Homo sapiens: one gene and its partners. The protein of the gene in region 2 purifies or fractionates together with the protein of the main gene of each other region. This does not show direct contact. Each region holds a gene or a part of one and is shown on either strand. Other genes may lie near its edges. The genes, in order: NLN, SMTNL2 and SKP2.

What was found.
Region 1: the proteins of SMTNL2 (region 2) and NLN purify together in Homo sapiens (co-immunoprecipitation; 3 studies listed by BioGRID and IntAct, with this or other methods). This does not show direct contact.
Region 3: the proteins of SMTNL2 (region 2) and SKP2 purify together in Homo sapiens (co-immunoprecipitation; 3 studies listed by BioGRID and IntAct, with this or other methods). This does not show direct contact.

Annotation. Positions count from the first base shown.
Region 1 is NC_000005.10:65,788,140-65,791,890, reverse strand, and holds part of NLN (neurolysin, mitochondrial), read right to left. Parts: coding exon 3,407-3,751; intron 1-3,406. UniProt on the Homo sapiens protein: Hydrolyzes oligopeptides such as neurotensin, bradykinin and dynorphin A. Acts as a regulator of cannabinoid signaling pathway by mediating degradation of hemopressin, an antagonist peptide of the cannabinoid receptor CNR1.
Region 2 is NC_000017.11:4,601,420-4,605,170, reverse strand, and holds part of SMTNL2 (smoothelin-like protein 2), read right to left. Parts: intron 1-3,751.
Region 3 is NC_000005.10:36,155,055-36,158,805, reverse strand, and holds part of SKP2 (S-phase kinase-associated protein 2), read right to left. Parts: intron 1-3,751. UniProt on the Homo sapiens protein: Substrate recognition component of a SCF (SKP1-CUL1-F-box protein) E3 ubiquitin-protein ligase complex which mediates the ubiquitination and subsequent proteasomal degradation of target proteins involved in cell cycle progression, signal transduction and transcription.

The DNA of each region.
Region 1 (3,751 bases), on a different chromosome or scaffold from region 2:
TCAATTAGACTATTCTTGTACAGTGTCGTATCTGTGTGGTCTTTCCAAAAGCTATTAGACTTCATTCTCCAAAAGCTATCAGACTTCATTTTGGGAGTACGTGTCCTTTCCCCCTTTTCTTTTGCTCAGAAGACTAATAGTACCTGGTCTTTTTATTTTTTTTTTTTTGAGACAGAGTCTTGCTCTGTCATCCAGGCTGGAGTGCAGTGGCATGATCTCAGCTCACTGCAACCTCTGCCTCCCAGGTTCAAGCAATTCTCCTGCCTCTGCCTCCTGAGTAGCTGGTATTACATATATACAACACCACGCTGGTTAATTTTGTTCTCTTGTTTTGAGACGGAGTCTTGCTCTGTTGCCCAGGCTGGGGTGCGGTGGCAAGATACTGGCTAACTATAATGTCCACCTCCTGGGTTCAAATGATTCTCCTGCCTCAGCCTCTAGAGTAGCTGGGACTACAAGTGCCTGCCACCACACCCAGCTAATTTTTGTATTTTTAGTAGAGATGGGGTTTTCCCACGTTGGCCAAGCTGGTCTCAAACTCCTGACCTCAGGTGATCTGCCCTCCTTGGCCTCCCAAAGTGCTGGGACTATAGGTGTGAGTCACTGTGCACAGCCTAATTTTTGTATTTTTACTAGAGATGGGGTTTCACCATGTTGACCAAGCTGGTCTTGAACTCCTGGCCTCAAGTGATCCACCTGCCTCAGCCTCCCAAAGTGCTGGGATTACAGCCACTGCACCCAGACAGTACCTGGTCTTTTTAAAACCTATTCTGAATACCCTTTTTAAAAGTCAGTTAGACAAATAAAACAAGTTAATCCCTTTTACCTTTATGAAGAGAACATCTTAAGATGACAGGAAGTAAGTATTAACTAGGTCACTACTTTCACAAAGATTACTCTCTGTTACCCACACCAGGGTGCTGGTAGCAATGACCAGATCTCTCAGTACAAAAGAAATTAATTATATCCTGGCAGTGAGACAGCAGAATGAGGTAGCAAGAATTGTTATTTGACGCTGGAAAGAAAATCTGAGGACAGTTATAGGAGACTCCAATATTAAAGGATTACTCCTGAAAGAGTTCTTCGGTTAAAACTATATCCTGATACTTTTTATTTAAAAATAAGACTCATCTATATTTGGCAGGGTTTTACTTTTAGGTCATAATATTAGTGAAAGTAAGTCCATAAAGCAGCAGGTGATGTGATTTGGCTGTGTCTCCACCCAAAGCTTATCTTGAATTGTAGTTCTCATAATCCCCACGTGTCGTGGGAGGGACCCAGTGGGAAGTAATTGATTCATGGGGTAGCCAGTCTCATGATAGTGAGTGAGTTCTCACAAGAGCTGATGGTTTCATAAGGGGCTTTCCCCTGTTGGCTTGGCACTTCCCCTTCCTGCCGCCACGTGAAGAAGGATGTGTTTGTTTCCCCTTCTGCCATGATTGTAAGTTTCCTGAGGTCTCCCCAGCCCTGCAGAACTGTAAGTCAATTAAACTTCTTTCCTTTATAAATTACCCAGTCTCAGTCAGTTCTTTACAGCACTGTGAGAAAGGACTAATACACCAGGATAATCACTTAGGTGCTAAAAGACACTTCTGCCCACCAACTAGATGACACAGTTACTCAACCTACTTTTCAGCACTCAAAGTCAGTGGATTACAAACTTGTGTGTATTACTGAATGAGGGGGATACTATACTCTCCTTTGATCTATTTAAATGATTAGTAATTGTAAGAGGTTGACTTTGCTTTAGAAAGTAGCCTGGGGAGAAAGAGATCCAAATCCTTTTGTATCTGATGAAACACTATGGAATCTATAGTTATTACATGCTATAGACACAATTATAACATTTTTATAATTGTTACCACTGATATCTGGGGAAGATGATTTGCACATATAGTCTTTAATGCATAAAACAATCCTGTAAAAGGATTTCCAGTCCCATATTACAGAGGAAGAAACAGAATCTCAAAGAGGTTATGTCACTCAAGCATTCAAACTCAAATCTGACTGACTGCAAAGGTTTTGCTACTTCTACTAAACTGTGCTGCCTCTCAGCCAGACTGAAGGGAGTGGCCATAGATTATTGGCAGACAGATTATCTAATAAATATTTTGGTGCTCAATTTTATTTATTTATGTTTTTTGAGTTAGAATCTTGCTCTGTCGCCCTGGCTGGAGTATAGTGGCGTGATCTCAGTTCCAGGGTTCAAGCTATTCTCATACCTTGGCCTCCCAAGTAGCTGAGACTACAGATGCCTGTTAAATTTTTGTATTTTTAGTAGAGACAGGGTTTCACCATATTGGCCAGGCTGATCTTGAACTCCCGACCTCAAGTGATCTGCCCACCTCAGCCTTCCAAAATGCTGGGATTACAGGTGTGAGCCACCATGTCTGGGTGGTGGTCAATATTCAATTAAGTAAATGTAGTGCACAAACTAGATGATGATGATAATGACAATGGTAGCAGCTAACTCTGATTAAGCCTTTGCTATGTGCTGAGCAGTCTTCTAAATGCTTTGCATGTATTCAACCAATTTAATCCTTACAGTGACCATACAAAGCAGGTACTACTAATATTCCCAGTTTATAGGACCTATAATATAGGTAAGAAAACTGGGGCACAGAAAAATTAAGTAACCTACCTAGTAAATGATGATGCCAGACATTCTGGCTTCAGACCCACATTTTAAATCTGTATACTAAGAAGCCCATGTGAGAAATATGGAAGAGTAGAGTCTTTTTTTAAATTAATTTTTTTAGAGATAGGGTCTAGCTCTGTCACCTAGGCTAGAATGCAGCAGTGTGATAATAGCTCACTGTAACCTTAAACTCCTGGACTCAAGTGATCCTCCTGCTTCAGCACAGCTAGGACTACAGGTGTGCACACCACACCTGGCTAATTTTTCATTTTTTTTTTTTTGAGACAGGGTCTCACTCTGTCACCCAGGCTGGAGTGCAGTGTTGCAATCTTGGCTCACTGCAGCCTCCACCTCTGAGGCTCAAGTGATCCTCCCACCTCAGCCTCTCAAGTACCTGGGACTATAGGCATGTACCACTACACCTGGCTAATTTTTGTATTTTTTGTAGCAACAGAGTTTTGCCATGTTGCCCAGTCTGGTCTTGAAGTCCTAGACTCAAGCAATCCACCTGCCTCGGCCTCCCAAAGTGCTGGGACTACAGGCATGAGCCACCACACTTGACCTAATTTTTAAATTTTTTGTAGAGACAGGGCCTCACTATGTTGCCCAGGCTGGTCTCGAACTCCTAGCCTCAAGCAATCCTCCCACCTTGGCCTCCCAAAGTGTTGGGATTACAGGCATGAGCCACTGTGCCTGGCCAAGAGTAGAGTCTTAAAGTAGGCATAGCTGAATCCCTAAGGTCCCTTCCAACAACGTGATCCTCAGTACCTTGGATAGAGGTCCAAATAGAACTGTCCCAATACTTCTCCTGTAGCTTTATCCTTCACAGTATAAAGTGTAACACTCTTGTTCCAAACATGAGCATCTGTCATTTGTTCAAATGAAAGTCCCAACAACTCCTGGTAGGTGTTCAGCAAGCCTTCAGTGACCACCTCAATTGGGAAGTATTCCTTGAGGAACTCTTGGTCTATGGAATACTTGAGTTCCTCTGTCTGAGTCATGTAGTAATATAGATCCCAGGCATTGATTTTCCCATCATATTCAAAACCCCTGTCTTTGCATTCCTTTTTCTTCAAATTCAAAATAAACTCTCGTTCTGCTTCACCCAAGGGT
Region 2 (3,751 bases):
AAAAAAAAAAAAAAAAACCAAACAAAAAAGTCAGAGATTATTCTTGTTGCCATTTTGACGATCATGCCTTGCTTTAAGAAGCAGGGTGGATCACAGAGAAGAGGCCTGAATGTGAGATCAAAACAGTAGAGTTCAAACCCCGACTCCTCCCATTGCTTCACTGTTCTGTGCCCATTTCCTTAGCACAAAATCGGAATACTGGCCGGGCACGGTGGCTCACACCTGTAATCCCGGCACTTTAGGAAGCCGAGGCGGGCAGATTGCCTGAGGCCAGGAGTTCCAAACCAGCCTGACCAACATGGTGAAACCCTGTCTCTACTAAAAACACAAAATTAGCCAGGCATGGTGGTGCACGCCTGAAATCCCAGCTACTTGGGAGACTGAGGCTGGAGAATCGCTTGAACCCAGGAGGTGGAGGTTGCAGTGAGCCGAGATCGTGCTACTGCACTCCAGCCTGCTGACAGAGCGAGACTCTGTCTCAAAAAAAAAGAAAAAAATCAGAATACCACCTCTGCTGTCCCTCCCAGTGGGCCTGTTGTGAGGCTGTGATTCCACAATGTGTCTTTATGCATCTTGTTCCCCAGAGAGCCCAGCCAGAGGGGAGACCCCAGCGAGCGAGCAAGACTCCTCTGACCCATCCCAGTTTGGCACGACGCACTCAGCACTTTCTACCAGGACTCACGCGGCTGTGTGCTCCAGAGACAAGACTGTAACATTACCCGCAGGCCCTGCTCTGCTGTGCTGGCTGGACGCCAGGCCTCCTACCAGAAACCAAATGTCAAGGCGAAATGGAGGCATCTGTCCTGGATCCCCTCCCCACCTCCTGCTTGGAGTTGTAGCGGGTGGCCTGTAAGTGAATCCAACAGGCTTTGTGGGGTGATGAGTGGGTTTGGCCCAATGAGCGGGCACCCTTTCTCCCTGGGACAGGCCAGGGCAGGGCTCGATGTCAGGGAAGCTGGCCCTCTGATGCGAGCAGGCGTGCAAAGGTGCTTTGTCGATGATAAAGCATTGAAAAATCTGAGTTCAGGCCGGGCGCGGTGGCTCATGCCTGTCATCCCAACATTTTAAGAGGCTGAGGTGGGCAGATCATTTGAGGTCAGGAGTTGGAGACCATCCTGGCTAACATGGTGAAACCCCGTCTCTACTAAAAATACAAAAATTAGCTGGGTGTGGTGGCGTATGCCTGCAGTCCCAGCTACTCGGGAGGCTGAGGCAGGAGAATCACTTGAACTCGGGAGGCGGAGGTTGCAGTGAGCCAAGATCATGCCACTGCACTCCAGCCTGGGCGACAGAGTGAGACTCTATCTCAAGGGGAAAAAAAAGGAAAGAAAAGAAAATCTGAGTTCAGAGAGGCTGGGGACCTGAGTTCACCTTCCTGAGCGATCATTTCATATCTGGTGCCCTCCTTTCCACCTGCCACACAGCTGGGGCACCTCCACTCCCACACCTGCTATTTGGAGGATCCCAGGTGTGTAGAAACAGGCTCCACACATGCTCTGGTTATCAGCACTGACGGCGGTGGCCTCAGTGGTGCCACATGTTAAGTAGGGACAGCATGAGGACTCTAGGACCTCCAACCATCCAAACACCCCCGTCAGAAGCACCAATCACCTCTATAAAGGCCCTGCCTCAGCTTGTTCATCTCAGGGTCCAGGGAAAGGGGACCCAATTTCCTCCAAGGACAGCTCAGAACCCTCTGCAGATGCTCTGACCACGAGAAAGTTCTTCTAACATTTCTTACGCTATTTGTGCCTGTGTGTACTTTCTACCTGCTGACCCCATAAGGCTACTTATTCTCAGTCTGATTTTTCCCCCATGTCAGAACCCTTCACACGCCAGAAGAAAACCTTCCTTCCATGTCTTTCTCTGAACTAAACAGCTCTGGTTCCTTAACTGTTCCCACAAAGGATACCCAGGACCCACCTCTCCGAACCAGGTCTTGCCACTCCCTAACCCACTTCATAGGAGGCCCTCAGAATTGCCGGCATTTTCCGGGTGTTGTCCAGCCTCTGCAGAAGACAGCAAGCTGACCCCTCCTCATTCTAGAGGCTGCGTTTACCCTCTGATAATGACCCCTGGTGGGCCCCTGCCCTGGTGGCAAGTCTTCAAGTCCAGGGTGGCAGTCAGGATGGGAGTGGATGCCATGCCCTGTGTCATCCTCCGCTGTCCAGATCGCCGGCTTCCCCAGCAGGCAACCAGGGCACTGGGCCATGATCCATATGGTCCCCACTGTTGTTATTTCTAAGTTGAGTACATGAGAGTGTAGGGGTTCCTAGGGGAGCAGGGAGGGGTCACAATATGCAACACGCAACCACCGTCTCCTGGCTCCCTCTTTTCTTCACCTGCCACCTTTGCTCTTCACCCACTTCTTTTCCTGGGGAGCTCCAAATTCCGCCTCCCACAGGCAGAGAGCATTCTCTGTCTTTGAAGCACAGCTCACAGCAGACCTTCAAGGGCACCCACCTTCCACGGATCACCTGAGGTCAGGAGTTCGTGACCAGCCTGGGCAACATGGCAAAACCCCGTCTCTACTAAAAATACAAAAATTAGCTAGGTGCCGTGGCTCAAGCCTGTAATCCCAGCACTTTGGGAGGCTGAGGCGAGAGGATCACCTGAGGTCAGGAGTTCAAGACCAGCCTGGCCAACATGGTGAAACCCCATCTCTACTAGAAATACAAAAATTAGCTGGGCATGGTGGCGCATGCCTGTAATCCCAGCTACTCGGGAGGCTGAGGCAGGAGAATCGCTTGAATCCAGGAGGTGGAAGTTGCAGTGAGCTGAGATTATTCCACTGCACTCCAGCCTGGGCAACAAGAACGAAACTCCATCTCAAAAAAAAAAAAAAAAAAAAAAAAAAAAGCACCTGCCTTCCACCCCAGATTGTCCCTGCAAAGGGAGCACTCTCCCTCAGAGACATGGTGCCAGCTTCAATGGCACAGGTTCATCATACCGAATCCAAAATGCGCCAATGAGCATTTCCTTTCAGCATTGTGTCTGGCACTCAAAAAGTTTCAGATTTTTGAGCCTTTGGATTTTTTAAATTTGGGATGCTCAACCGGTAAGTATTATATAATGCAAATATTCCAAAATCTAAAATCCAAAACACTTCTGGTCCCAGGCCATTTTGGATAAGGGATATTTGACCTATGATGGCAAGATTCCTGGAAGCTGCAGACATAGGCTGGACAAAACTCGGGAGACAGCAGAAAAAGAAAGTGATGATCAGCATTGACATTTATAAAAAATGTTTGAGTCTCCAAATATTAGAGGTCCCAATTGCCTTTTAAATTAAAAAAAAAACAACAACTGCTTTTGTAAAAATGATACAGGTTTGTTTTAATGATTCAAACAGGCCAAGTGCGGTGGTTCATGCCTGTAATCCCAGCACTTTGGGAGGCTGAGACGGGAGGATCACTTGAGGCCAGGAGTTTGAGACCAGCCTGGCCAACATAGTTAGACCCCGTCTCTAAAAAAAAAAAAATAGCCAAGTGTGGGGGTGTGTGCCTGTAGTCCCAGCTACTTGGGAGGCCGAGGCAGGAGGATCACTTGAGCTTGGGAGTCTGAGGCTACAGTGAGCTGTGATTGCACCACTGTATTCCAGCCTGGGAGACAAAGTGTGATCTTGTGTCAATCAATCAATCAATCAATCAATCAATCATTCAAACAGAAAGTTCAAAGGAGAAAGTAAAAATCACTTTAAATGCCATTCCATAGCAAGAACCAGAGTTAACATGGGCTGACTACATTTTTT
Region 3 (3,751 bases), on a different chromosome or scaffold from region 2:
TAAAAGAGACAAGGTCACACAATCAGTAAGTGGCAGAGGGGGAATTTAAACTCAGGTCTGATTTCAAATCATGCCCTTTCCATCCTAGTGGGTTCTAATATTCTATGCTCTCCTCTGTTGTAAGTACAAATTTTGAAAAGGTGAGAATTAAACCCGGACTTGCTATGGAAACAGAAATCAATCAGGGCTAGGGAGTGAGTGGAGGAGGAGAGAGAAAATAAAACAAAGATGCTATCAATGGGTTCACCACCAAATGGAAGGAGCAAGGTCCTAGAAAACACACATACTCAGCTAGCAGCCAAGTACCCAGTGCTCTTACTCAGCTGACCACAGAATGACACTAATCCTAGGGGCCCCGGGTGGGGGTACCACAGCCTGATATGGGCTGCTGTCCCAGCAGATGGGGCAGAAGTTTGTCTTTAATAGCTGCTCTAGCAATAGGCATCCAGGCTGTGATATGCTTAATCTAATTTTCCTTGCCATATTTAATTCTCAAAACATTAGCCATCTGTTTCCTGAATTCATGATGAAACTGCTGCCTGGTCTGTTTGCAGAGAGCGGAAGGAAAAATCCAGAGGTCTTTTCTCCACTTGTCTCTGCTAAATCCAGCAAGGCTGTAGCTGCATACCAGACCCACATTAAAAGACATAATTACTGAGCCCAAGGTCTCCAGTCTTCAATGACATGGACGGCAGTTAAATATACTTCAGGGCCAGGAAAGGGCAAAAACTGGGCCAAACCAGCAAACCTACTACAATCACCCTCACCTACCACTGTTTCCAATTATTTCTCAGGTGCAAACCCAGTTTCCCACTTCTGTAACCTTATCACATCTCATGCTTCCTGAAATTCTCTGGGAAGAGGGCCTTGTTGGAGAGTTTTCTATGCATTCCATCTTTGCAGTGTAGGTAACTCATCTTACTTGACATATTTATTTCTCAGAATATCACTCCACTCATTTATTTCTCAGAACATCACTCCACTCCACTCAGATTCAAGCTGAAAATCCAAAGTAATGCTAATCATAATCAAACTTTTGACTTAAAAAATTGCTGCTCTTTAAGCATAATCAGATTATACTTGCAGAAATGTATACTGAGGACCTGGTACTCATACTTGTTTTTGTGTGTGTGTGCATTTCTTTCAGGGAGTTGGGGGGTGCTCACCTCAGAATTGCTTTTGCTGGCTTGTTTTAAGTAGCAATACCCCATGCTTTCTTTCTGGGGAACTACAAACAGATTGTGCCATCCCAGATGAGTTCTCCTTCCTCTTCCCACAAACCATAAATAATACATTTGAGGCCATGTTGGCTTTGGGTGTTTTTGTTTTTTTGGCTAAGGTGGGCAAAACTGAAAAAAACAAAACACAGCCAAACTTAACAAGGATTCCCCCATGTACCCCTTCAGTCCCACAACCCTTTATTTCTATGAAAGACTTGCTCAACCCTGAGGTGTAGGGGGTGTAATGAAGAAACAACAGAAGCTGGGATTTGGAAAAAATATGGAACAGTGTATAAGCACTATGAGGGCAGGGTCTCTTGCCTGTTATGTTCAGTATTGTAGTCCCAACCTCTAAAACGGTGCTTGAGAAATATTTGCTTAATGGATGAATGAAAGGAAGCTATGGAACAAAGAAAGATGACTGGGAAGATCCCATAAAGGCTCTTCCAGTGCTGAGTTTAGTAACTGTAGACTGAGACTCACATAGATCATGAAATCAATTTAGTGGGTTTGACTAGCATATATGTACATATAAAGAATGAACTAGAACAGAATAGAAAATATCTTAGTAAGGGGAAATACAGTTTTGTAAAACTGCTGTTTCAGATACATACCCAGGATTGCAATGTAAAATATGTTTCTTACTGGTTAAAAAAAAAAAGTTGGAAAAAATGCTTGCCTAAGGGTATTAAGACACAGATTCCCAGGCTCACTCAGGCCAGGACTCCCCGGATCAGAATCTCAGGAATTTTACACTTTGAACAAGTTCCTGTGGGGATTCTGATATACAGTAAATTTTAGTATCTCCAGTCTGACAACCACTTTAGGGTCTGGAATTTCAAGCATTTAAGAGTCATGGAAGAGCTGATCAACAAATTAGTTCACCTCCATTTTCATGGCTATCACCTGTTTAAAGGGTGGGGTGGGGGACAAGCATTTCATGACCATAAATAAAATGCAATTGTCCCCTTTCCGCCTGTTACTGACCTCATTGCTGGGCCATTTCCTCCCCAACTCTTTCCATACACTCACTCCAAGGGCCAATCAGACCTGTTCTAGTACAGGTTGGCCACAGAGCTTTCATCTTCCCAGATAAACGGATGAAGAGGATTTAGTTGCCAGATGTACGGCTGGACTGGGGCCTGCAGGGAGAAACTGCTTAGCAAAGAACCAACAAAAACTTGCAGCCCAGAACCAGTCATCAGATATCTATGTACAGCAGGTGTGGCCTGTTCTACCCTAATCCTGGCAAAGCTAGTAGCCACCTGTCCTGACAACTGCAGACAAAACTCCTTGGAATGACAATCCGGCTCCACTGGAGGCCCAGGCTTCCAAAGGCCCATTGGGAATCCTCTATACCAGCTGTCCCTCATCCTGCATCACTGATTTCACCCTTCCCCACTCCACACCAATTAAGCAATCTCTGTTGTAAGTCCACGTACATTGGTTTCCCTCTGTGCCTCTCCTTAGGTAATAAACATAAAAGTCACCATTCTTTCTCTCTCCCTTCAGATATATACTTTTGAAGTCAGCTTTAACCATCAAGACACTGATTACACCATTTTCAGAGCCCTCTCTTTCCTCAGAATCTCCTTTCTTGCTGAGTGGAAGGAGGAAGATCTTCCACATCCACCTGAATGGGAATCACAGCTCTTATTTTTTATTGTATTTTCTCCTCAACTTGACTTGCAAATTCCTGGGAAATAGCAAAGACTCCGGAAACTTCTGTCTTGTTCCCACAGTGCCTTGCTTAAAAAAAATTCTTTTTCACTTGTGGAAGGGCATATAGCAATCACACTCTATGTCAAAAGCTATCGGCACTGGACAGGTTAATAAAAATCTGTTCATCTTAGCAGGAAGTATCTTTCGCCATATTTGGTTGGTCAAGCACCAGATTGTTAGGGCTACATTCCAGACACAAAGAAGAGCGGTGAACATTAAATTTTGAAGAAAAAAAATTTTATACTAACAGGGTCAGAGTAACAATATTAAAAACAAAAGATAAAAGTCCACTAGCCTCCAAAATTGGTGTCAGGAATTTTGTTGGCTTATGTATTGTTACGTGTCAGTGGCATGCTAAGGGTTTTACGTCATTCTCATTTAATCTTCACGACGACCTGTGAAGTGGGTATTATTACAGCACTCCATTTCACAGATAAAGGAACTAAGGCAAAGAAAGCTCGAATAACTTTCCAAGGCTGATAAACGCAAGAATGAGGATTCAAACCCAGATCTGACTTCACTACAACCCTCTACTGCTTTTCTAACTAATCCAATTCCTGATGTATATTCCCAGACCATAAATTGGGCAAAGTTCTCTTTCCTAAAGAAAAGGCTGAAAACAAACGTATTTATTTTCTTAATTAAAAGTGGAATGCATCTCGAATCCGCATGTCTTCCTGCGCAGGGGCCATGCTAATCTTCTCTGTATTTCCAGTTTCAGTATATGTGCTGCCAAAGCGAGCAACCAACCAATCAACTAAACAACCAATCTATCAACCCTTCTGCAAAGGAAACCAGATGGGAGAATT